Homo sapiens: one gene and its partners. Each later gene encodes a partner of the first gene's protein in a complex. Each region holds a gene or a part of one and is shown on either strand. Other genes may lie near its edges. The genes, in order: MED19, MED16, MED25 and CCNC.

Region 1 (7,870 bases):
AGATCTGCCTGACCAACAGGGAGAAACCCTGTCTCCACTAAAAATAAAAAATTAGCTGGGTGTGGTGGCACATGCCTGTAATCCGAACTACTCGGGAGGCTGAGGCAGGAGAATCGCTTGAACCTGGGAGGCGGAGGTTGTGGTGAGCTGAGATTGTGCCATTGCACTCCAGCCTGGGCAACAAGAGCAAAACTCTGTTTAAAAAAAAAAAAAAAAGAGGCATCTTGGAGACCAAACATGTCCAAAATAACTCTTGATTTCCACCTCTTCAAACTTGTTCCTTCCTCATCTTCCAAGTCTCCGTACCCATACACCCAATTATTCAAGCCGAAAACTTAAAAAGGCATCAATTCCTCTATTTCCTTCACTTCTATATACAATATATATTTTTAATTGAGACAGGGTCTTCCTCTATCATCCAAGCTGGAGTGCAGTGGCACAATCATGGCTCACTGCAGCCTCAACTTCCTGGGCTCAAGTGATTTCTACCACCTCATCTTCCTAGGTAGCTGAGACTACAGGTGCATGCTGCTATCCCTAGCTAATTTATTTTTATTTTTTGTAGAGATGGGGTCTCATTATGTTGCCCAGGCTGGTCTCAAACTTTTGGGCTCAAGCAATCCTCCCACCTCAGCCTCCCAAAGTGCTGGGATTACTGGCGTGAGCCACAGCGCCTGGCCCTGTATTCAATTTTTCAACCCTGTCAGCTCTACCTCTAACATCCTGTATCCATTTACTTCTCTATGCCCTGCTATGCTCTGGTTCAAACCATTATCTTTCCTGGACTACTGAGCAGTAACTTCTGACTAATTTCCCCACTTTCTATTTGTCATGTGGCTGCTTAAATGATTATAAACAAGTGCATTTGACCAACTTCCTATGTTAAAATGGCTTTCCTTGGCTGGGCACAGTGGCTCAGACCTATAATCCTAGCACTTTGGGAGGCCAAGGCGGGAGGACTGCTGTTGGCCAGGAGTTCAAGACCAGCTTGCGCAACACAGTAAGACCCAGTCTCTACAAAAAAATTTTAAGTTAGCCAACTGTGGTGGTGCATGCCTGTAGTCCTAGCTACTTGGAAGGCTGAGGTGGGACGACAGCATGAGCCTAGGAACTGGAGGTTACAGTGAGCTATGATTATACCACTGCAGTCCAGCCTGGGTGACACAGTGAGACCTTGTGTCTATAAAAAAATTTTTTAAATGGCTTCCTTTTGTATTTACAATCTAAATGCCTTTACTGCTTTATAAAAGCCTCTGCCTAACTCTCCCAGCTTCATCTCTCTCCCTAACACTCTTTCCTTTTGTTCACTTCACTGGAGTCCAACTGATTTTCTGTCCCTCAGATATTCTAAGCTTTTTCTCACATCAGGGTTTCTGACCTCATTTCTTGTATCTACAATTGTCTCTCCCTCCTGTCCATACATGGCTGGCCCTTTGTCTATGCTTACATTTTAGTTCAAATGTTAGCTATGTGAAGAGAGCATCTCTGGCCACTCTAGCTAAAGTAGTTCTGCCCCTCAATTTTTTTTTTTTAAGAGACAGGGTCTCATCTGTTGCCCAGGCTGGAGTGCAGTGGCACAATCTTGGTTCACTGCAGCCTCGACCTCCTGTGTTCAAGCGATTCTCCTCCCTTAGCCTCCTGAGTAGCTGGGGCTACAGGCATGCATTACCACGCCCGGTTAATCTTGTATATTTTGTAGAGACTGGGTCTCGCCATGTTGCCCATGCTGGTCTCAAACTCCTGGGCTCAAGGGATTCTGCCTCGGCCTCCCAAAGCGCTGGGATTACAGGCGTGAGCAACGCGCCTGGCCACCTTCAATTTTTATCATGTTTTCTTTTCCTAGCATTAACCACTTTCTGACATTATCTTGTTTACAATGCCTCCTCCACTGAAATGTACATCCCAAAAAAGGCAAGCATCTTGTCAGTCTTGTTCACAACTGTCTCCAGCATTTAGAAAAGTGCTTGGTACATAGGTACTCAACAAAATAATTTTTTGAATGAAGAGTTTGGTTCGATTCTTATCCCTTTTTTGATCAGACCAGGAAATGCCGGAACCTTAGAAGGAAGAATGGCAACTTGCCCCAAACCAATAGCAAGTCTGTGGGAGACCTGTAACTAAAACTTTGGGTCCCCAAAGATATTAAATCAGGCCTCTCGAGTTCCAAACTCAAACCCTGGATTTTGTTTGTTTTGAGACGGAGTCTCGTTCGCCCAGGCTGGAGTGCAGTGGAGCAATGTCGGCTCTCTGCAACCTCCGCCTCCCGGGGTTCAAACGATTCTCCCGCCTCAGCCTCCCGAGTAGCTGGAATTAAAGGTATACGCCACCACGCCCAGGTAATTTTTGTGTTTTTTGTGGAGACAGGGTTTCATCATGTTGGCCAGGCCGGTCTCGAACTCCTGACCTTAGGTGATTCGCCCGCCTCCGCCTCCCAGAGTGTTGGGATTACAGGCGTGAGCCACCGCGCCCAGCCCTAGGTCATTTTTTAGAGAGACATAAACCAGTGTCAGGGACACAGCCTGGACATGGTGCAAAAGACAGTAACGGAGATGCACTACGCCCCTGCCCGCCATTCATCCCTTTGGTTGAATTCAACTCATCCTGGTTGAATTCAAGTCATCCCTCTGCTTGTGAATCCTAACAGCGCTTCCGACTTAGGGCTCCACAGTCCGGGTATGCGTTGCCTAGGTTACCTCGCACCTCCGCTAGCCGGCTGAGAGCCACGCCCATCACCTCCTCTCTAAGATTTGATTGGCTGGCTTTGGCAAGGCCGAGTACTCACCTGGCAGTTCCCTCATGAGGTAAAAAGGGCCACAGCCAGCTCCTGACTTGTCCGCGCCAGGAGGAGCCGTGGCCGCGGTGGGAGGCGGGGCCGTGCCGGGTCCCCCGCCCGCAGGAGGCGGTGGCGGGGGTGGAGGCTTTCCTGGTCCGAAGCCGAGTGCGGTTGGGGGCGGTGGTGGGTCAGCCTGAGCCCCAAACAGTGCCGTGAAATTCTCCATCGTACCCTCCGCCCCGGCGCTGTCTCCGTGTCTGCCGTTGGTAATTTTCATTGGACAATGCTTTCAAGGAGTACCCCCCCGCCCTTTCTCAAGGAGCCGCTTGTCATTGGATGCCTCAGGCACCGCCTACCTTTTTTCAACAACTACTTCCGTCGCCTTATGAGAACGTTCAGGAAGTGCTATTTAACCTTATTAGAGTCTTCTGCTAGCTCTGCTTGCTACAGTCCAATAAAATGACTTAGGCGGATAAAGCGACAACTAGACTAACCAATAAAATATTAAGTTCTTTTTTGGGTTCTGACCTACCACAGCGTTCAGAGAACTACATCCGGGTTTAGAGGCCGTACGTTTGCGATATAGCCCAATAGCAGTCGTTATGGTGGGGGAGGCGGGGCGAGACCTACGACGCCGGCGAGCAGTGGCCGTTACGGCCGAAAAGATGGCGGTCTTGGCACCTCTAATTGCTCTCGTGTATTCGGTGCCGCGACTTTCACGATGGCTCGCCCAACCTTACTACCTTCTGTCGGCCCTGCTCTCTGCTGCCTTCCTACTCGTGAGGAAACTGCCGCCGCTCTGCCACGGTCTGCCCACCCAACGCGAAGACGGTAACCCGTGTGACTTTGACTGGGTGAGCCTCCCGCGTGTTAGTACCCCGCGACCTTGACTGTCCCTGCCCTTGCAGGTGTATCTGGGAACCCTGGGGTTTACCTCTCTGAGGACACCTGAGGTTCCGAGCCTGTAGCGGACTTAGAGACTATTAAGTGCAGGGTCCGAACCATCATCGAGTCTAAACTTTGTGTTTAAGATGGGAAAACGGAACATGTTAGTCGTAGCCCATGCACAACGGCCCAACAGCTTTTGACTGTTGAGTCCAGGTTTCTTTCTGTTTCACCATTGAGACTAATTAACAGCCCTATCAAAACTGTACATACACGTGTATAACGTTTTACAGTGCCGCTCATTATGTAAAGCCTCCTGAGGAGCCAGTAAGGTAGACAAGGCAAGTAGTAATATTCCTGTTTCATTGGTGAAGAAATGGATCTCGGTATATTTAGGTGACTTGCCCCAGGTCATACAACTAATGAGTGCCTGGGACTTGAAACTACTCTTCTGGCCACACTACCTGCACAACACTGTCAGCCGCTTCTTAATTCAATAAACATTTCTAGAGTGTACACTCTAGGCACTCTGCTTGATCCTGAAGATGCGAAAGTGGATAAAATTTGGGGGCTACTGTAAAGGAATTGTAAAAAATACGTTGTAAAGAAATCTTTGGGATTTCTTTGGGAAGTGTCCCAAGCTCCTTGCTGTGCTTCCTTGGTATGGGTGGAGGGACTGCTCGGAACATAAACTTAAAGCACTTTCCCTTCTGCCATATAGCATGTAGGGGCCAAGGAAAAGCTTCCCCTTTGCTCTCTGAGGGTTTGTTGAAAAATCAACCGACAAAGGGCACATTAATAGGAGAAAGGCATAGAAATTTTATTTTAACGTGCATAGCATGAGGGAATTGCAGGAGAATGACCCAGTGGGGTACAGATGCTTATATACCCTCTTTCATAGGAATATGGGAGATGGGAAAATGTGGGTGATTTTAAGGTGGATCGTAAATGATTTTTAGGGTGATTCAGTGGCCTGGAGAACATACAGTGGCCTGGGACAATGACTGTTGGGCCTGCAGAGCAGACAATGGTTTCTGACAAAAATCTGTCCAGGTGTGTTGACAGGCTTCCATCTTTCTTCTTGTACTGAAGTAAGTTAATGAAAACTCAGGGAAGAGACCAGAAGTAATTGTTGTCTTCTTTGACAGGTCTGGACTTTAGGCAGATAAGGTAGTTATCAGAGTAAAGCTGCTTCCAGTATCTGCTGGTTTCCAGGGACCTTTAATTTAAAATGATTAGCATACAGGATGCCATATTTTGGGGTGTGAGTCCCTGGTCTTCTTTATTTCCTTTGTCTGAAACTTCCTTAGAAGTTTCACTATAAGCTGAGTTGGTGTCTGTGGAGAGAGAAATCGGGCTAGTAATTGAGCGGCAAAGGATCCCATTAAACCAGCCTCTCATTTTGGGGGATAGTCCAGTTCAATTAAATTGTTGTGTCTCATTTCAGAAGATGGCATTGTAGATGAGTTCTCAAAGCTAGGCCTCTGTATATGATGTAGGCAAACAGGTATTTAATAAGAGAGACATTTCTATGGAACAAGACAAACAAAGCTTAATATCTGGTATAGTCTATAAACTAGTTTCTTTAGAGTCTGGAGGGCAGTCAATTGGGAAGATTAATAGCAATCTATTTTCCTAGATTGTAGGTTGTGTGTAAAGTTTGTCCAAATATAAGCTTTTGTGGTGATTTTTTTTTCAAAGTCACGTTGACTAGCTTTAGCTGGTAAGGCCTTAGGAAAAAGGCAGGGTTTTTAGTTTTTTGGATTTTTTTTTGAGACAAGGTCTTGCTCTGTCATCCAAGCTGGAGTGCAGTGATGTGATCATGGCTCACTGTAGTCTTAACCTCCTGGGCAAAGCCATCCTGCCACCTCAGCTTTCCAGGTAGCTGGAACCAAAGGCATGCACTACACACCTGGCTAATTTTTAAAAATTTTTTTTCAAGGTGGGGTCTCTTGATGTTGCCCAGGCTGGTCTTGAACTCCTGAGCTCAAGGGATCCTCCTGACTTGGCTTCCTAAGGAGCTGGGATTTACAGGTGTGAGCCACTGCGCCAAGCTAAAAAAGGCCGTTTTAATTTTTAGTGATTCTAAGTCAGAAGAGTGGGTGAAAAATGGAAAACATTAGTCTGGAGGTTAGCAATTTTATGAGTCCAGTTTTATTTTCATTAGACTTTGGAAATTTTTACCCAGTCCGGTGATACAGTTTCAAAGTTATCAGAAACCTTTATTTGTCAGCATTCTTCCCATGCTTTCCATGATCCTCCTTGAAAATAAGACACTTGGCCAGGCATGGTGGCTCACATCTGTAATCCCAGCACTTTGGGAGGCTGAGGCGGGTGGATTTCCTGAGCTCAGGAGTTCGAGACCAGCCTGGCCAACATGGTGTAACCCCGTCTCTACTAAAAATACAAAAAATTAGCTGGGTGTGGTGGTGGGTGCCTGTAATCCCAGCTACTCTGGAGGCTAAGGCAGGAGAATCACTTGAACCTGAGAGGCAGAGGTTGCAGTGAGCCAGGATCGTGCCATTGCACTCCAGCCTGGGCAACAAGAGCAAAGTTCTGTCTCAAAATAAATAAATAAATAAAATTAAAAAAATATATTTTATATATAATATATATGTATTAATGTGCTTTTAATACTAAAGCTGATTTTAATAAACTTTACAAACAAATCTGTCTAATCTTGATCAGCTTTGACTAGACAAGATAAAATTTCCATAAACCTTTTATAACCTCTTAGAATTTGTTTTCTTTTTTTTTTCTTTTATTGATCATTCTTGGGTGTTTCTCGCAGAGGGGGACTTGGCAGGGTCATAGGACAATAGTGGAGGGAAGGTTGGCAGATAAACAAGTGAACAAAGGTCTCTGGTTTTCCTAGGCAGAGGACCCTGCCGCCTTCCGCAGTGTTTGTGTCCCTGGGTACTTGAGATTAGGGAGTGGTGATGATTCTTAACGAGCATGCTGCCTTCAAGCATCTGTTTAACAAAGCACATCTTGCACCGCCCTTAATCCATTTAACCCTGAGTGGACACAGCACATGTTTCAGAGAGCACAGGGTTGGGGGTAAGGTCACCGATCAACAGGATCCCAAGGCAGAAGAATTTATCTTAGTACAGAACAAAATGAAAAGTTTCCCGTGTCTACTTCTTTCTACACAGACACGGCAACCATCCGATTTTTCAATCTTTTCCCCACCTTTCCCCCCTTTCTATTCCACAAAACCGCCATTGTCATCCCGGCCCGTTCTCAATGAGCTGTTGGGTACACCTCCCAGACGGGGTGGTGGCTGGGCAGAGGGGCTCCTCACTTCCTAGTAGGGGTGGCCGGGCAGAGGCGCCCCTCACCTCCCGGACCGGGCGGCTGGCCGGGCGGGGGGCTGACCCTCCCACCTCCCTCCTGGACGGGGCGGATGGCCGGGCGGGGGGCTGACCCCCCCCCACCTCCCTCCCGGATGTGGGGCTGACCCCCCCACCTCCCTCCCGGACGGGGCGGCTGGCCGGGCGGGGGGCTGACCCCCACACCTCCCTCCCGGACGGGGCGGCTGGCCGGGCGAGGGGCTGACCCCCCCACCTCCCTCCCGGACGGGGCGGCTGGCCGGGCGGGGGGCTGACCCCCCCACCTCCCTCCCGGACGGGGCGGCTGGCCGGGCTGAGGGGCTCCTCACTTCCCAGTAGGGGCGGCCGGGCAGAGGCGCCCCTCACCTCCCGGACGGGGCGGCTGGCCGGGCGGGGGGCTGACCCCACCTCCCTCCCGGACGGGGCGGCTGGCCGGGTGGGGGGCTGACCCCCCCACCTCCCTCCCGGACGGGGCGGCTGGCCGAGCGGGGGGCTGACCCCCCCACCTCCCTCCCGGACGGGGCGGCAGGCCGGGTGGGGGGCTGACTCCCCCACCTCCCTCCCGGACGGGGTGGCTGGCCAGGCAGAGGGGCTCCTCACTTCCCAGTAGGGGCGGCTGGGCAGAGGCGCCCCTCACCTCCCGGACGGGGCGGCTGGCCGGGCGGGGGGCTGACCCCCCCCACCTCCCTCCTGGACGGGGCGGCTGCCGGGCGGAGACGCTCCTCATTTCCCAGACGGGGTTGGTGCCGGGCAGAGGGGCTCCTCACTTCTCAGATGGGGCGGATGCTGGGCGGAGGGTCTCCTCACTTCTCAGACGGGGCGGCTGGGCAGAGACACTCCTCACCTCCCAGACGGGGTCGCGGCCGGGCAGAGGCGCTCC
Region 2 (7,035 bases), on another chromosome or scaffold:
GGTCTCCCAGGTGCCTGGGGAGCTTGAGGCTTAGAGACCCAGTAAAGGGGACGGGGCCCACACAGGGACGAGGGTCGGTCCGCCACGTGCCCGGGGAGCCTGAGGTGCAGGGAAGGTGCTTGTGACGCTCCCATTTGAGGCTGGACAGAAGCAGGTACATGGGGACTTCCACACCACCTCTGCCCAGACACCCGGCCTGGAGGTGCCGGGACCTCTGAACGACAAGATTCTGGTGGCAAAAGCTGCCCTCGGTGGTGGGTGGGGGACCTGGGTCTGGGTGGGGGTGGGCCGGCTTATTCTGCTCTCATTAAATATCTGAAATTTTCCCAGTTTACAAGCCTCTGACGTAACCGTCCTCTCTTTCCATCAAGTCTTTTCCTGAAACCCAAACCCTCGTGTGTGACTCATTAGGAGGCCCCTCCCACAGTGAGCACGAGGAAGAAAATGCTGGAGGTCCTAGAGCCAAGCCAGGGCGCCTTCCCGGAGGTCCCGGAGCCAAGCCGGGGGTGCCTTCCCTGGAGGTCCTGGAGCCGAGCCGGGGCCTTCCCCGGAGCAGGGCTGCTGGAGGTTCACTTCATTTTCTTCCTTTTGCTCATCTGTGTTTTCTAAAATTCCAGCCCTGAGCAATCAGTGGCTCAGAGGGTTTGCATGTGCTCCTTGTCAAACGTGTGTCTGAAACAGGCTGGGGGTCTGACGGGCCTGGGTTCAAATCCTGACTCGGCCACTTCCTGACCGCGTGACCCCAGATGAGTGGGGTGACAAGGTCCCACCCTTTCCAGGCTGGGTTTCCTCACCGTGAAATGGGGTGACAAGGTCCCACCTCACAGGGCTGCTGGGCAGCCAGGGTCAGCTCAGCACACTTGGGTTGCCCAAACCCCGCACATTCCAGAGAAAGGCCAGCCCCGGGCCCTGCAAGGTGACCTCTTGCCCCCGGGAGATCCTCCTGATGAGGTGTCTGCTCAGCAGGGCCCTGGGCCATATGCTAAGGCGTCTCTCTCCATCCACAGAGGGATCTACGGCGAGGCCTGACATCCAGGGGGGCCAGAGACTAAGGGCAGAGGCTAAGGCAGGGCGCCCTGTACAGCGAGGCCAACACACAATCAGGAAACACCAAGGCAAGGCCGGGGCGGTGGCTCACACCTGTAATCCCAGCACTTTGGGAGGGCGAGGCAGGTGGATCACCTGAGGTCAGGAGTTCAAGACCAGCCTGGCCAACATTGCAAAACCGCCTCTATACCAAAAATACAAAAAATACCTAGGTGTGGTGGCTCATGCCTGTAATCCCAGCTACTGGGAAGGCTGAGGTAGGAGAATCATTTGAACCCGAGAGGCAGACGTTGCAGTGGGCCAAGACGGCACTACTGCACTCCAGCCTGGGCAACAGAGTGAGACCCTGTCGGGGAGACAAAAAAAAAAAAAAAAAGGGAGAGGGTGAATGGAAGGGCTGGGTGCCCGTGTTGGGGGTGGTTCGTGACACAGCAGAAGACACCACTAGGGGATGGAGTTAGGGGCACCTAGAAGGAAGCAGCAGTCATGGCCATGACTGGAGAACATGGAGGGAAGGAGCCGTATGGATTCGGGGGGGTCCTGGGGCAGGACATGGAGGGAGGGAGCCGTGTGGATTCGGGGGGACCCGGGGCAGGACATGGAGGGAGGGAGCCGTGTGGATTCGGGGGGTCCCGGGGCAGGACATGGAGGGAGGGAGCCGTGTGGATTCGGGGGGTCCCGGGCAGGACATGGAGGCGGGGAGCCGTGTGGATTCGGGGGGACCTGGGGCAGGACATGCAGGGAGGGAGCCGTGTGGATTCGGGGGTCCCGGGGCAGGACACGGAGGAAGGAGTCCTGTGTTTGGGGACCAATGCAGGGACACACGCACCTGGCGAGGCCGTCGAGCTGCAGGGTGGCAGCACTGCCAGGCAGCGTGGGCGCCCGGCCAAACTGCAGACGAAGGGGCTGCTTGGGCTGCAGGCGGCTAACCAGGCCGTCGCTGGCTGGCAGCCAGTCCAGGCTGGGGATAAGCAGCTGGCTGGGCAGCAGGCAGCATTCATCCACCAGCGCCTCGTCCGGCTCGCTCGCTGGGCCCTCATCGCGACCTGCGGAGAGAGGTGGCGGAAGTCTCAGCACCCCTGACTGGGGCACCGCCCGGCCACCCGGGACGTGCTGGGAGCCCCTCCAGTTCAGGAGCACCAGGTCAGGGCCCCAGCTCTGTCTGCCTGGCTGGGTGACCCCGGGGTTCTCTCACCAGGTCGGGGCCCCGGCTCTGCCTGCCTGGCTGGGTGACCCCAGAGTTCTCTCCCCGTCTCTGGCCTGTCATGAGACTCCCTCATTCACTTAAAAAGTATGTGGGAAGCACTGTGCCTTTTCCAGACACTGGGATGTAAGAATGACACAGCTCACCCTCCTCACATACACACAACCCGACAAGGAGAGACAGCAAACAGGTGCCTGGAAGTGGCTGCCATCCCAAAAGCACCCACACAGAGCATGGACCTGTGCTAGGAACTGGGGAAATAGCAGATATCAAGGCAGAGCCACTGCCACCTGCAGGGGCTTATGTTCTGGCGGGGGGCTCAGGCAGGACTTGTGTTTTGGTAGGGAGAGGGGAGCGGGGAGAGGGGAGAGGGGAGAGCGGGGAGAAGGGAGAGCGGGGAGAGGGGAGAGCGGGGAGAGGGGAGAGCGGGGAGAGGGGAGAGCGGGGAGCGGGGAGCGGGGAGAGGGGAGAGCGGGGAGCGGGGAGAGGGGAGGGGCGGGCGGGGGTGCCTCACAGCAGATCCAGAGCTTGGTGAGCAGGCGGAAGAGCAGGGACATGCTGTCCTGGGTATCCGAGGTGGCCGTATACACGGGCAGGCAGCTGGGCTTCAGAAGGCCCCAGATGCGGATGACCACCATCAATTCCCGAAGCATGCCCAGCGAGGTGCCGTCCCGCAGAAAGCTGTGGCCCGGCCTCAGCAGGGAACCCTGCCCGAAAGAGGCATCGGTGTGGCTGGGGCGGCGGGGGGCAGATGGCGATGGGATGAAGTGTCTTGGGGTCGGTGGAACCCCGACCGGGGGGCAATGGGCAGGGTCTGGGACATTTGTGGTGGTCAGGACTGGGGTGCTTCTGGCACCGAGTGGGTGGATGCCGGGGACGCTGCTCAGAGCCCTGCAGGGCCCAGGACAGCCCCATTTGCAGAGTCGTCCCATCCCTGAGAGTCCACAAGACTAAGACGAGGCTCTGGCTGAGGCCAATATCCCCACCTGCACGTGGAGGAGCAGCCGCCCCCTCCTACAGCTGCGGGCCCGGGCCCCTGGTGACTGTACTGGGAGCTGAGAGGACCAGGGAAGGGAGGCCCCAGGGGTGGCCCCTGGCAGCCTAAAGCCCCACAAAAAGAAGAGAGGGACTTCAAACCGTCCGTGATGGGCGCGGTGGAGAAGGGCGGGCCCCAGGGCAGGATGAAGCCGGGTGGGTGGGGCAGAAGAAATCACAGCTGGGGCAGGACAGAGTGTACCGGCGGGGGGGTGGGGGCGAGGTTGGAGCCCTGGTCAGGGGCGCACAAGCCGCAGAACTGAAGGTGGAGGTGTGGATGGAGACTTGATTTCAAGGCCGCCCACCCCAGGCGCAGGGAGCTGGGGAGGGTAAGGGGTGGGGGCAGCAGCAGCAGAAGCAAGGCGAACCGGCCTTCGTGTAGGGGTGGGGCTGAGAAGGAGCAGGGCCTGGGAGGCGGGGCTTTGAGAATGGGCAGGAAGGGTGTGGCCAAGGAAAGGCTTCTTACAGCAGAGGCTTCATGGAGAGGAGGGCTCCGAGGTGGGGGAGGGCTCCGAGGTGGGGCAGGGCTCCGAGGTGGGGGAGGGCTCCGAGGTGGGGGAGGGCTCCGAGGTGGGGCAGGGCTCCGAGGTGGGGCAGGGCTCCGAGGTGGGGCAGGGCTCCGAGGTGGGGGAGGGCTCCGAGGTGGGGGAGGGCTCCGAGGTGGGGCAGGGCTCCGAGATGGGGCAGGGCTCCGAGGTGGGGCAGGGCTAGGAAGTGGGGCAGGGCTAGGAAGTGGGGCAGGGCTAGGAAGTGGGGGTTTAAGAAGAGACAGACTCAGGAAGTGGGACTCCAAGTAGGGGTGGGACTCCAACCAGGGGCGGGGCTGAGGTGGGACTCCAAGCAGGGGCGGGACTCCAAGTAGGGGCGGGACTCCAAGTAGGGGCGGGACTCCAACTAGGGGCGGGGCTGAGGTGGTTTTGAGGGGCAGGGGCAGGGAAGCGGGGTCCTGATGAGATGGGGGCCCAGGTGGGGGGCGGGGCCTTAGGGGAGAGCATGGCGCACCTGGTTGGGTAGGCTGGCCAGCAGGTACAGCACGAAGTCGCCCACCCACTGCAAGAGCTGCTGCAGCGCCTGCAGTGTGTTCATGTCCAGCACAAATTCCTCCGTCTTGAGGTTGATCATGACCTTGTCAATGTCTACAAGGAGACGTGGGTCGGGTCAGCTCGGGCCTCTTGTACACACAGGGTGACCTAACTGCACCCCTCGGTCCTTCGACCTGCACTGAGTGCCCACCCAGTACCAGGACACAAGGGGACCCACACCGGGAACGAGAAGGGGGCGATGGCGTTGCCGGACGGAGAGGAACTGGGAGCCCACTGCCTGCCCCCCCCCGGGGGCCGCTGTGCTCAGCACCAACCAGCTTCTCTCGGCCTGCAGGCCTTGGCGTGGGCAGGTCCCCATGCCAGGGCCACCAGTGCTCAGGCCCGGCCTGCTGGTGCACATCTGCCCCCTGCTCCGAGGTGAACTCTGTGAACACAGGGGCATGTCCACAGCGTGCAGCTGCAGCCACCCCCGGCTGGCAGCTGGCGGCGGTTACACACCCAACAGATGCCTCTCGGATGGTGACTAGGGTGGTCCCACAGAACTAACCATGACTGTGCACACGGCTCCCAGCTACCAGGAGTGCCACGTGTCCACACTCAACCGGGTACTCCAGACAAACGATAACCCTAAATTTTTTTTTTGAGACAGAGTCTCACTCTGTCGCCCAGGCTGGAGTGCAGTGGGGTGATCTCAGCTCACTGCAAGCTCCGCCTCCCGGGTTCACGCCATTCTCCTGCCTCAGCCTCCCGAGTAGCTGGGACTACAGGCGCCCGCCACCACGCCCGGCTGATTTTTGTATTTTTAGTAGAGACGGGGTTTCACCGTGTTAGCCAGGATGATCTCGATCTCCTGACCTCGTGATCAGCCCGCGTTGGCCTCCCAAAGTGCTGGGATTACACACGAGTCGCCACGCCCAGCAACCCTAATTTTTAAAAGAAACAGCCTGCCAGGCACAGTGGCTCACGCCTGTAATCCCAGCGCTTTGGGAGGCAGAGGCGAGTAGGACACCACGTGCTGGGTGAGCCTGGGCAAGCTGCTTAGCCTTTCTGCCTCAGTCCCCTTACGGCAAAACGGAAGGAGGAGCAGACCTGCCTGCACAGGACCCGGGTGCCGGGTGTCGGCCTGGGAGCGTCTCAGCCCCCAGGAGTAGAGAGAGGTGAAAGGATCGCTTGAGCTCAGGTGGTCAAGACCAGCCTGGGCAACACAGTGAGACCCTGTTGCTACAAAAAATTAAAAACCGGGTGTGGTGGCACGTGTCTGTAATCCCAGCTACTCCAGAGGCTGAGGCGAGATTGCTTGAGCCCAGAAGGCAGAGGCTGCGCTGAGCTGGGACTGCGTCACCGTGCTGCAACCTGGATGACACAGTGAGACCGTCTCTAAAAGCCTGGGTGTGGTGTAATCCCAGCCTTTAGGCTATATCCCAGCACTTTAGGAGGCCGAGGCGGGCGGATCATTTGAGGTCAAGAGTTCGAGACCAGCCTGGCCAACATGGTGAAACCCCGTCTCTACTAAAAATACAAAAAATCAGCCGGGCGTGGTGGCACGTGCCTGTAATCCCAGCTACTTGGGAGGCTGAGGCAGGAGAATCACTTGAACCAGAGAGGCGGAGGCTGCAGTGAGCTGAGATCGCACCACTGCACTCCAGCCTGGGCAACAGAGTAAGACCCTATCTCAAAAGAGTAAAAAAAATAAATAAAAATAAAATAAATAGATGAAAGAAACCTCGAGGCCCCGGGCGTGGAAAAGGACCCACCGACGTCGGTGATCTTGGTGCAGATCTCGGTCAGCCGGTCGCCGGGGCTCTTGTCAGGCGTGTTGAGAAAGTGGGGGCGCAGCAGCGACTTCAGGGTGGAGCTGATGGCGATGAGGAAGAGCTTGGTGTGGTAGTCGCACACGCGGGTCACCGTGCAGGGCGACAGCTTGCAGAGCGAGGCCTTCATGGCCAGGATCCGGGTGGAGAGGACCTGAGGGCAGGAAGCCAGGTCACCCCAAGGGGCCGGAGCAGAGGCGCCCGCCAAGGCTCCAGCTGAGGAGAAGAGCAGTTCGACTCTGACACCAGGCGCTCGGTCAGCTGGGCAAGCTGCTTCGCCTCTGCACCTCAGCAACCTCATGGCAAAACAGGTGCGGAAGACCAGGCGCACAGGACCAGGTGCTGGGTTCTCAGCTGGGAGCGGCTCTGCCTCTGGTGGGGGCCCCTGGTGATGTCTGGAGATATTTTTAGTTGTCACCACTGGGGGTGCCCCTGCCAAGTAACGGGTGGAGGCTGGGGAGGCTGCTCAACAGGACACCCCCATCCCAGAGGCTGCTCCAGCCCCCGATGTCTGTGGTGCCTACGGGGAGACCCTGGTCTAGAGAGAATGAATGAATGAGCTGAAGCATTTTGGGAGGCTGAGGCTGGAGGATTCCTGGAGGCTGGGAGTTGGAGAGCCTGTGCAACGTAGGACACCCCATCTCTACAAAAAATAGAAACAACTAAAAACAAAAATGAAACGCTTGGCACACAGCGACGGCCCAAGGAGGGAGAGGGCGAGGTCTCGCCATCACTAGCGCTGTCACTGGCTACGGATCCCAGCCACGCTGGGGTTTAGCCTCGCAGCCCCCGCCTGGGTCTCACGCGTTTCTCGGCAGGCTGTGCCGTGAATGGGATTTTTTTTTTCCCATTTTATCTTCGTATTGGTTTCTGATGGCACAGAGGAAAACAAGTG
Region 3 (7,035 bases), on another chromosome or scaffold:
GAGTTCCCTACCCAATCCCTGGTGCTAGCACAGCACCAGTCCCAGACAGGACAGGGGACATTTGCTGTCTGTGTTTTTTTTTTTTTTTGAGATGGAGTCTCGCTCTGTCGCCCAGGCTGGAATGCAGTGGCATGATCTCAGTTCACTGCAAGCTCCGCTTCCTGGGTTCATGCCATTCTCCTGCCTCAGTCTCCCGAGTAGCTGGGACTACAGGTGCCTGCCACCACACCTGGCTAATTTTTTGTATTTTTAGTAGAGACGGGATTTCACCATGTTAGCCAGGATGGTCTCCATCTCCTGACCTCATGATCCACTTGCCTCAGCCTCCCAAAGTGCTGGGATTGCAGGAGTGAGCCACCACACCCGGCCGACATTTGTTGTCTTTAATCATGAGGACTGGGAGGGAATGGGAAAGGGCTGGGGACCCCAAGCCTAGGATCCTGTGCTGACTCCAACCCTGGAGTGACTGACTCCATGCCCAGCCTCCTGCTGTCCCCTCCCCTCTCTGGGCTGTCTGCTCCAAATCAGTCCTGGCCCCACTTCACCTTCCCAGCCAGAGACGGGGGCCTCCTCTGTCCTCCTAGTCTTATGGGTTCAAGTGTGCCCCCTTCAAAAAGACAGGTTGAGGTCCTAAGCCCCAGTACCTCAGAAGGTGACCTAATTTGGAAAGATCTTTACACAGGTAATCGAGTTAAATTGCGGGCCCTAATCCACTATGGCTGGTGTCTGTGAAAAGGAGAAACGTGGACACGGACACACACACAGAGGGAAGACACAAGGACACAGAGAGACACAGGGAGAGGCCATGTGAGGACGGGTGATGCAGCCTCAGCAGGCACCAGGAAAGGCAGAAGGGCCCTTCCCCTGTAAGATTTCAGAGACAGCCTGGCCCTACCACCTGGATTTTGGACTTCCAGCCTCCAGAACCCTGAGACATCAATTTCCATTCTTCTGGCCAGTTTCTCATACTTTGCTACGGCAGCCTGGGAAACTAACACACACAGACTCTCGTTTCTCCTCCGCCTGATCTGCAGTCGCGTCGCAGCATCCGTCCCACATGGGTTGTGGCCCGGGGATGGCCTCTCCTCAAGGGCAGCTGTGGTTGCCACCATTATTCCGGTCACGTGGTCGTGAGAGGCTGACCTTTGCTGCAGGGGACGTGTGTGGAGACCGAGCACCCCTCTGAGGGTCTTGAGGGCCCTGTCCCCCTGAAGTGTGGTCTCTGATCCTACCTCTCCCACAGGCGGGGATGGGGTCTGAGTCCTCTCTTACCCCCAGGCTTGCCCACCACAGCGGGGCACATGTGAGGCCTCAGGAAATGTAGGCTAAGTGAATGAACGTCTACAGGCCCAACCGTGTCCATCAAGACTGGAACCAACCCAGGCCCTCGGCCCGGCATCGGCCCAGCATCCGAGGCCTCCGAGTCCTGCACCCCGTCCATCTCTCCTGCTCCATGCCCGCACCTATAGGTCCTCTCAACTGACAAAGCCCAGACATCCAGGTCTCTGCATGTGCTGGAACACACCCATTCCGGCCCGGATGGAATCCAGCTAAACTACGACACCCATCCTGGTGTGCCCTCCTATAGGAAGCCTTCCCTACATGCCACCTAATTTTACGGCCTGCCCTTAGTCACATCATAGATCACCCGATACTGCAGCTGTCAAGCTTCTCTCCGCACCCTGTGCAGCCCTCCAAGAGAGACACCAAGGCGTCTGACCCTAGGTCACACAAGGCCTAGGAACCATCTGCTGAGTACTCAGTGCACTGGTGGCCTGGCAGGGCCATGCAGCGGGGCTCTCCGCTTCCTGCCTGAGTTCTCGCACTGATTTCCTTCCAGTCCCACTCGGCCCGGCCAGTGAGCACACTGAGCCCCTGAGCCTTCTTCCTGCTCTCAGGGCACTCGGGCGCTGCTCCCAACCCACCACACACTTCCCAGCCCTCCTCTTCCTAGCCATCAAAACAGCTTTTGTTTTTGAGACGGAGTCTCGCTCTGTCTCCCAGGCTGGAGGGCAGAGGCACATCTCCGCTCACTGCAAGCTCCGCCTCCCGGATTCACGCCATTCTCCTGCCTCAGCCTCCCTCGTAGCTGGGACCACAGGTGCCCGCCACCACGCCCGGCTAATTTTTTTAATTTTTAAGTAGAGACGGGGTTTCACGGTGTTATCCGGGATGGTCTCGAACTCCTGACCTTATGATCCACCCGCCTCGGCCTCCCAAAGTGCTGGGATTACAGGCGTGAGCCACTGTGCCCGGCATCAAGACAGCTTTGCACGCAGAAACTTCAACTGTGTGCAAAGAGTTGGGGTGAACCAACTCTGGACCCAGCTGTTCTGCTACAGGTGAAATTAAGCCAATATTTTCCTGGGCCTTTCTGGGACTCGAGCCAAAACCACCCTGGCTGGGGATGGGGGGATGGGGGAATGGGGAGCTAGTGCTTCATGCATATGGGGTGTCCTCTTTGGGGTGATAAATTTTTTTTTTTGAGATGGAGTTTCGCTCTTGTTGCCCAGGCTGGAGTGCAATGGCACGATCTCAGCTCACCACTACCTTCGACTTCTGGGTTCAAGTGATTCTCCTGCCTCAGCCTCCCGAGTAGCTGGGATTACAGGCATGCGGCACCACGCCCAGCTAATTTTGTATTTTTAGTAGAGACAGGGTTTCTCCATGTTGGTCGGGCTGGTCTCGAACTCCCGACCTCAGGTGATCCGCCTCCTCACCCTCCCAAAGTGCTGGAATTACAGGCATGACCCTGTAAAACAGTTGGAAGTGACTGGGTGCAATGGCTTATGCCTGTAATCCCAGCACTTTGGGAGGCCGAGGTGGGCGGATCACTTGAGGTCAGGAGTTCAAGACCAACCTGGCCAAAGTGAAACCCTATCTCTACTAAAAATACAAAAACCAGCCAGACATGGTGGTGGGTACGTGTAATCCCAGCTACTCGGGAGGCTGAGGCAGGAGAATCACTTGAACCTCGGGGGCAGAGGTTGTAGTGAGCTGAGATCATGCCACTGCACTCCAGCCTGGGAGAGAGAGAGAGACTCCATCTCAAACAAAACAAAACAAAACAAAACCCTTATGAGGAAAAGTGTGATAAACTAACCAGTTTGAGATGCTAAAACTTGCGTTTCTCTTATTGAACACTAAGTACAAGTCATGTGCTACAAGCTCAAAGGGCGACATGTAATAAACATTTTGTCAAAGAAATGTGGAAAACTTGAACAGAAGAAGCACTATGGCTGGCTGCAAAATATGGCTAAAATATCAAGTTTATGATAAATTCCAAATAAACCCCTTGATATGGCAGACACAAAATAAAAATAAAAGCCCCCTAGGTGACACAAGTGGGCTCTGACTTGGTGTTCCCAAGTCCTCTAACTTACTCCCATTTGTTCTACCCAGTATCATTCCCCGGGGTCTCTGCTGCCCGCTTTCATCGGCTAACAGGTGCCTGGAGCCCCAGGAGGTCAAAATGAGTGAATGTTAACAGCATCCGGCCATGACCAAGGGCTCCCTACACACGGCCTGTCACCCAGGCAAACTAGTTCCATGAGGGCCAGGACCTTGCCTATCTCATGCCCACTAACTCCTTGGTGCCCAGGACGATTTGTTCCACAAACATTTGTTGAATTAATGAGTGAACATATGAATGAACAACTGAGTTGTCATAATGTTATGGGAAACACACTGGGTCTATTTTCCTTCCACCTCTTTTTTTTTTTTTTTTTTCCCGAGACAGGGTCTCGCTCTTTCACCCAGGCTGGAGTGCGGTGGCACAATCTCGGCTCACTGCAACCTCTGCCTCCCAGTCTCAGTTGATCCTCCTACCTCAGCCTCCTGAGTAGCTGGGACTACAGGTGTGCACCACCATGCCTGGTTAATTTTTTCTATTTATTTGTTGTTTTTGTATTACATACTAATTCATTTATTCAGCCAGTCTCCTGAAGCCCCGTGGGTGCCAAGCCCCAGCTGGAAGCAAATGGCAGAAGCACCCAGGGACCTGGACATTCACAGTCCAGAGGTGTGGGGCTGTGACAGGTCATGGAGGCAGAGGAGGAAGCATCTGGCTGCAAGAATCGGGAAGGTTTCCCAGGGTATAAGACACCTGAGCTGGGTCTGGAAGGCTATGCAGTGTCTTCCAGGGTGGTTAGTATTAAATGCATTCTGGACATTCATTCTACAGAATTTACCCGAGGCCTCCTGTGTACCAGGCCCTGTGCTGGCTGCCAGGCACTTGAGGAGCATCAGACTTGGACCTGGGCCTCAAGAAGTCTCCATTTAACATCACTCAAGACTGTCTTACCGGTCTCTCCCAGTGGTCTCAAATGGAATACATTTTGCGCCCCCTTCCCAGAGGATATTTTATAATGCCTGGAGACATTTTTGGTTGTCACACCTTTGGGAGGGGGCTACCGGCATCTAGTGAGTAGAGGCCAAGGATGATGTTAAACATCCTACAATACCCAGGACGGCCCCCACTACAAGGAATGACTGTGTCCACAGTGTCACTAGGGCCAAGGATGAGAAACCCTGCTCTGTGTTACCTACGAATTCCAGCTACCGCGAAGGGGAAGCTTCTGTGTCACCTTTTCACTATATGTCCTGCACCCAGCACTTGCACGCACATACTGGAACAAAGCAGATACTCAACAAACACCTGCTGCAGAAGCATACAGAGGTAACGGCCGCTACGAACAGGTGTTGTTTAATGAACCTTGACTGCAGACCAGGCCCTAAGCGACACACAGCAAGCAACTTAGCTCCTGTGATCTTCTAACAACACGGAGATACACGCGACCATTATCCATTTGCAAACCAGGAGAGTGAGGCACAAAATCCTAGGAAACACTTACACGGCACTTAATACATGCCAGGCACTGTATTAAACATCATCAACTAACTTAATTCTCCAAACATCGCTGTGAGGTTGCGGTACCCAGCCCCCAATACAGCACCCAGCAATCCAGCCTCTTGCTATTTACACACTGGGTAGTCTCCTCCTACACTGAACGGGATAGGCTTATACTGCACACCAAATGCAGTATGGCAGAAGTGGACTTGGCACCGCAGCTCAGGCCTGTGATCTCAGCACTCCAGCACTTAGGGAGGTCAAGGCAGGAGGATCGCTTGAGGCCAGGAGTTCAAGACCAGTCTGAGCAACACAGCAAGACCTCATCTCTACAAGAATTAAAATAAAGAAATCAGCCATGCATGGTGGTGCCCACCTGCAGTCCTAGGTACTCAGGAGGCTGAGGTGGGAGGATCACTTGAGCCCGAGAGGTCGAGGCTGCAGCAAGCTATGATCCCACCACTGCACTCCAATCTGGGCAACAGAGCAAGACCCTGTCTCAGGTTAAAAAACAGAATGTAGGCCAGGCGCGGTGGCTCACGCCTGTAATCCCAGCACTTTGGGAGGCCGAGGCGGGTGGATCACAAGGTCAGGAGACCGAGACCATCCCGGCTAACACAGTGAAACCCTGTCTCTACTAAAAATACAAAAAATTAGCTGGGTGTGGTGGCGGGCACCTGTAGTCCCAGCTACTCAGGAGGCTGAGGCAGGAGAATGGCGTGAACTCGGGAGGCGGAGCTTGCAGTGAGCTGAGATCGCACCACTGCACTTCAGCCTGGACAACAGAGCGAGACTCTGTCTCAAAAAAAAAAAAAAAAAAAAAAAAAGAATGTAACAGAAATAATGACATGACGTGTAACTTCCAAGACTTGATTACAAAGAGCCTAGTGGGGCCTCTGGGTGCAGCATCTCATGCCTCTAATCCCAGCACTTAGGGACACTGAAGTGGAGGATCACTTGAGACCAGGAGTTCAAAACCAGCCTGGGCAACATTGCAGGACCTTGTCTCCACAAAAAAAACAATTTTTTTTTGAGACAGGGTCTCAGTCAGTCAGTCACCCAAGCTGGAGCGCAGTGGTGCGATCTCTCCACCTCCTGGCTTGAAGTGATTCTCCTGCCTCAGCCTCCTGAGTAGCTAGGATTACAAGGCACATGCCACCACACCTGATTAATTTTTGTATGGTTTTTTTTTTTTTTTTTTTTTTGAGACAGAGTCTTGCTCTGTTGCCCAGGCTGGAGTGCAGTGGTGCAATCTTGGCTCACTGCAAACTCCGCCTCCTGGGTTCACGCCATTCTCCTGCCTCAGCCTCCCGAGTAGCTGGGACTGCAGGTGCCTGCCACCGCGCCCGGTTAAATTTTTGTATTTTTAGTAGAGACGGGGTTTCACCGTGTTAGCCAGGATGGTCTCCATCTCCTGACCTCATCATCCACCCGCCTCAGCCTCCCAAAGTGCTGGGATTACAGGCGTGAGCCACCACGCCTGCCCAATTTTTGTATTTTTTGTAGAGACGGGGTTTCACCATGTTGGCCAGGCTGGTCTCGAACTCCTGACCTCAGGTGATTCGCCCGCCTTGGCCTCCCAAAGTGCTGGGATTACAGGGATGAGCCACCGTGCCCCGCCACTACAAAATTTTTTTTTTTTTTTTTTTTTGAGACAGAATTTCACTCTTGTTGCCCAGGCTGGAGTGCAATGGTGTGATCTCGGCTCACTGCAACCTCCACCTCCCAGGTTCAAGCAATTCTCCTGCCTCAGCCTCCCAAGAGCTGGGATTACAGGCATGCGCCACCATGCCCAGCTAAGGCCTGTAATTTCAGCACTCCAGCACTTAGGGAGGTCAAGGCAGGATGATTGCTTGTATTTTTAGTAGAGGCAGGGTTTCACCATGTTGGACAGGCTGGTCTCGAACTCCTGACCTCAGGTGATCCACCTGCCCCAGCCTCCCAAAGTGCTGGGATTACAGGCGTGAGCCACCACGCCCGACCTACAAAAATATTTTTAAGAAATCAGCCAGGTGTGCTGGCATTTGGCTACCGTCCCTGCTACTCCAGCTACTCGGGAAGCTGAGATGGGAGGATCGCTTGAGCTTGAGCCCAGGAGGTCGAGGCTGCAGTGAGCCGTGACTGAGCCACTGCACTCCAGCCTGCGTGACAGAGTGAGACCCTTCCTCAAAAACAAGAGAGGCCTG
Region 4 (2,809 bases), on another chromosome or scaffold:
AAGATGGGGGATGGCAACTTACGGAAAGTGGGTGGGAGTTTAGATGAAATGAAATTGGCCATAAATTGATAACTACTGAAGCTAGATGATAGGTACATGGAGGTTCCTTACTTTACTCCTGTATATGTTGTTTTAAATCTTCCACAATAAGAGACTGAAAACAAAACTATGAGGCATGGTATTAATTTTAAAAATAAACACTTAAAGACTATAGGTCTTACCTAAGCCCAACATTAATTCCTTCAGACCTGAGGAGAGCTTTTTTTCTTATTAAGCCCAGGAAACCTATATATGTCATCAGTCTGACTTTACACAGTCTCGCTTTCCAGCTCATTTGATACGCTCCATCAGAAATAAATTTTCTATTTAAAATCTGTTTGTAATGATTTGAAATTACCCCCTTGACAACCTATAAAAGGCTTTAACACTTAACTAAAGGAAGAAGAATTCTCAAAAAACAACATCAGGCAAATTCAAAAAGATAAATTCAAGACACTAGTCGATACAGCTGGAGAAGTTACTTTTATTCTTGCAGTTTTATACTAGGAAGTCAACATTTAATAAGCCATCATCCACAATTGATTAAAAATGTTTAATCCTTAAATTGTGCATCAATATCCTATGACTCCAAATTTTATTTATCACTCTCCTTCAAGTCTGAAGAAAATGATTAATTTGCTAAGTTCCACAGACAGTACAGTCCCACTGACATAACATTTAGTATGATGTCCTACTCTCATATTAGAATTAAGGACAGCCAGTATCAAACTGGCCTGAAACCTGATTGTGTTCCTGGTTCAGAATACCTGTAGTAAATCTGTAAATCCACACCAAGACACAACATTAAACTAGGGTGTGTATATCTTATAAAAACCTTTTCACAGTAAAAATCAACATTAAAATTTTACCAAATTCCAACATTATGGTTTTTGAATCCAATTAAGCTTTCAAAATGCCTGATTAGCTGTGAATTAATTATAAATAACTTCATGTAGTTTGCCCAGCATTTCAAAATGGTTATGGACTATCATGTTTAAAATGTCAAAGTATGCTATACATATTGCACTTTTCTGCTAGGCTGGGCTAGTATCTTCCATGGCAAGATCCTCAAACTACTGAATAAAATACACTTTTAAATCAATATAGGTACTTGATTAATTTCCCTGAAATTATCAACATCATTACCAAAATCTTCCAGGATTTTGTAAGATTTGATTCCTTAAATACAGTTTTAAAGTTAAACTTATGGAGGGAAAAAAACCCTCATAGATTGACTGTAAATTTTACGTCCTTTTTTGGTCCCTCAATGACCAAAGAGAATTTTAAACAAATTATGCTTCATGTTTCCTGGCTTAATAAAAAGCTACAATTTTTATTATCCAAATTAAGAAATATTATACTAATCAAAAGCTATTAATTTTGAAATGTCTATGTATGTCTGTCTGTAGGTCCCCTTAGAACCTTTCCAAACATTTATAATCAAGAGATTTTAATCAATTATGTACTAGAATCATATTAAAGAAAAACTTATTTTGCAAAAATAAAATCACTTTCCAATATGCTTGACAGAAACAAGCTATTCATTTTCATTTGTGTTCCACTGAAGACATTACTGAAATCTGTCCAATGGTTTATTTCCAAGTGGTCCACTATGGAATTCTTCGGAATGTTTTAAGATTGGCTGTAGCTAGAGTTCTGACTTCCATTTGGACCCTGCTCTCCTTCACTGTTCAAATGGGGAAGAAAGAGATTTTATACCAATTAAAAGATCCATTTTTACACCCTGATAAGCCTACTGACTTTTAAATTCATTATTCTGTGGCACAACTATACAAAACAAAGACATTCCTCATTATAAGACACGTGAAAAATTAAAATCCAGAAGACTAACAAACATTGGTTTTATGTTTTTATTCTTATATAACTTTGTGCCCTCACATATAACAAGCATTCTGGAAGTTAGTGTCCATATATACTCAAAAACTTTAAATTAGGGTATGGGATTTCATTGTTATTACAGGTATCACTCAACATAGAGATTACAGCTTCTTCTAAACAAATTTCCTATAAAATTAAATCTTACATATAAAATCCTATTCCTACTATTTATGAAAAACAAGAAGTGTTCTTCAAAAAAAAAAAAAAACCAAAACTGTTGTCCAAAGGCATAATAAAATCATATATAAATACAGCAAACCTTTATAAGTCAGCAAGAAATATGGTAATTTCCTGGAAAATGCTGAATACTTAAAATAAAAATGCTGAATACTTAAAAATAACTAAAACTGAAAATACCAGTAACTTTGGCAATAGGATTATTGCCTTATCTTGTCCACCATCATCTTGCAGCTTCAGGCCCTGCCACTAGTGGAGAATCACTCAGGGAATTTCTGCAAAAAATGCATCCAAAGGTAGCTGTTTGAATGACTGCCTTAAACAGCTCCTTGAATAAAGTATTAACTTTTTCCAAATTGTAACATTAACTTATGAGTAGCAATCCATAAATCTATCTTGTTATATAACAATCATTTTTCTAAAGAAACAATTAAGATGGATGGCATTTCTTTATTTCCCTTCTGACTTTTTCTCCCTGCCCCAAATGAACTGATACACAGTGAGGGCTGAGAACCACTGAACTAAATGAACACATCTTACTTAAAACACACACATACACCCCAATAACAACAAAAAAAACCCTCTTAGCACAGGTGATTCATTTTTAGCAAAAATATATTCTTATGTGCCATGGACCTTAGGGTCACTTAAAAACCAAAATTCTTTATCTTTACAATATCAGATCATTCATTGA

The links.
Region 2: MED19 (region 1) and MED16 share a complex: the UniProt entries of both Homo sapiens proteins name them as parts of the mediator complex.
Region 3: MED19 (region 1) and MED25 share a complex: the UniProt entries of both Homo sapiens proteins name them as parts of the mediator complex.
Region 4: MED19 (region 1) and CCNC share a complex: the UniProt entries of both Homo sapiens proteins name them as parts of the mediator complex.

What each region holds. Positions count from the first base shown.
Region 1 is NC_000011.10:57,709,181-57,717,050, forward strand, and holds the start of MED19 (mediator of RNA polymerase II transcription subunit 19), read right to left. Parts: upstream 3,036-7,870; 5' UTR 3,000-3,035; coding exon 2,783-2,999; intron 1-2,782. Other genes in the region: TMX2 (thioredoxin-related transmembrane protein 2), read left to right, coding at 3,439-3,627. UniProt on the Homo sapiens protein: Component of the Mediator complex, a coactivator involved in the regulated transcription of nearly all RNA polymerase II-dependent genes.
Region 2 is NC_000019.10:869,161-876,195, forward strand, and holds part of MED16 (mediator of RNA polymerase II transcription subunit 16), read right to left. Parts: intron 6,295-7,035; coding exon 6,084-6,294; intron 4,423-6,083; coding exon 4,289-4,422; intron 2,959-4,288; coding exon 2,766-2,958; intron 2,094-2,765; coding exon 1,877-2,093; intron 1-1,876. UniProt on the Homo sapiens protein: Component of the Mediator complex, a coactivator involved in the regulated transcription of nearly all RNA polymerase II-dependent genes.
Region 3 is NC_000019.10:49,821,282-49,828,316, reverse strand, and holds part of MED25 (mediator of RNA polymerase II transcription subunit 25), read right to left. Parts: intron 1-7,035. UniProt on the Homo sapiens protein: Component of the Mediator complex, a coactivator involved in the regulated transcription of nearly all RNA polymerase II-dependent genes.
Region 4 is NC_000006.12:99,541,884-99,544,692, forward strand, and holds the end of CCNC (cyclin-C), read right to left. Parts: intron 2,391-2,809; coding exon of another isoform or gene 2,339-2,390; exon of another isoform or gene 1,897-2,338; intron 1,727-1,896; coding exon 1,672-1,726; 3' UTR 504-1,671; downstream 1-503. UniProt on the Homo sapiens protein: Component of the Mediator complex, a coactivator involved in regulated gene transcription of nearly all RNA polymerase II-dependent genes.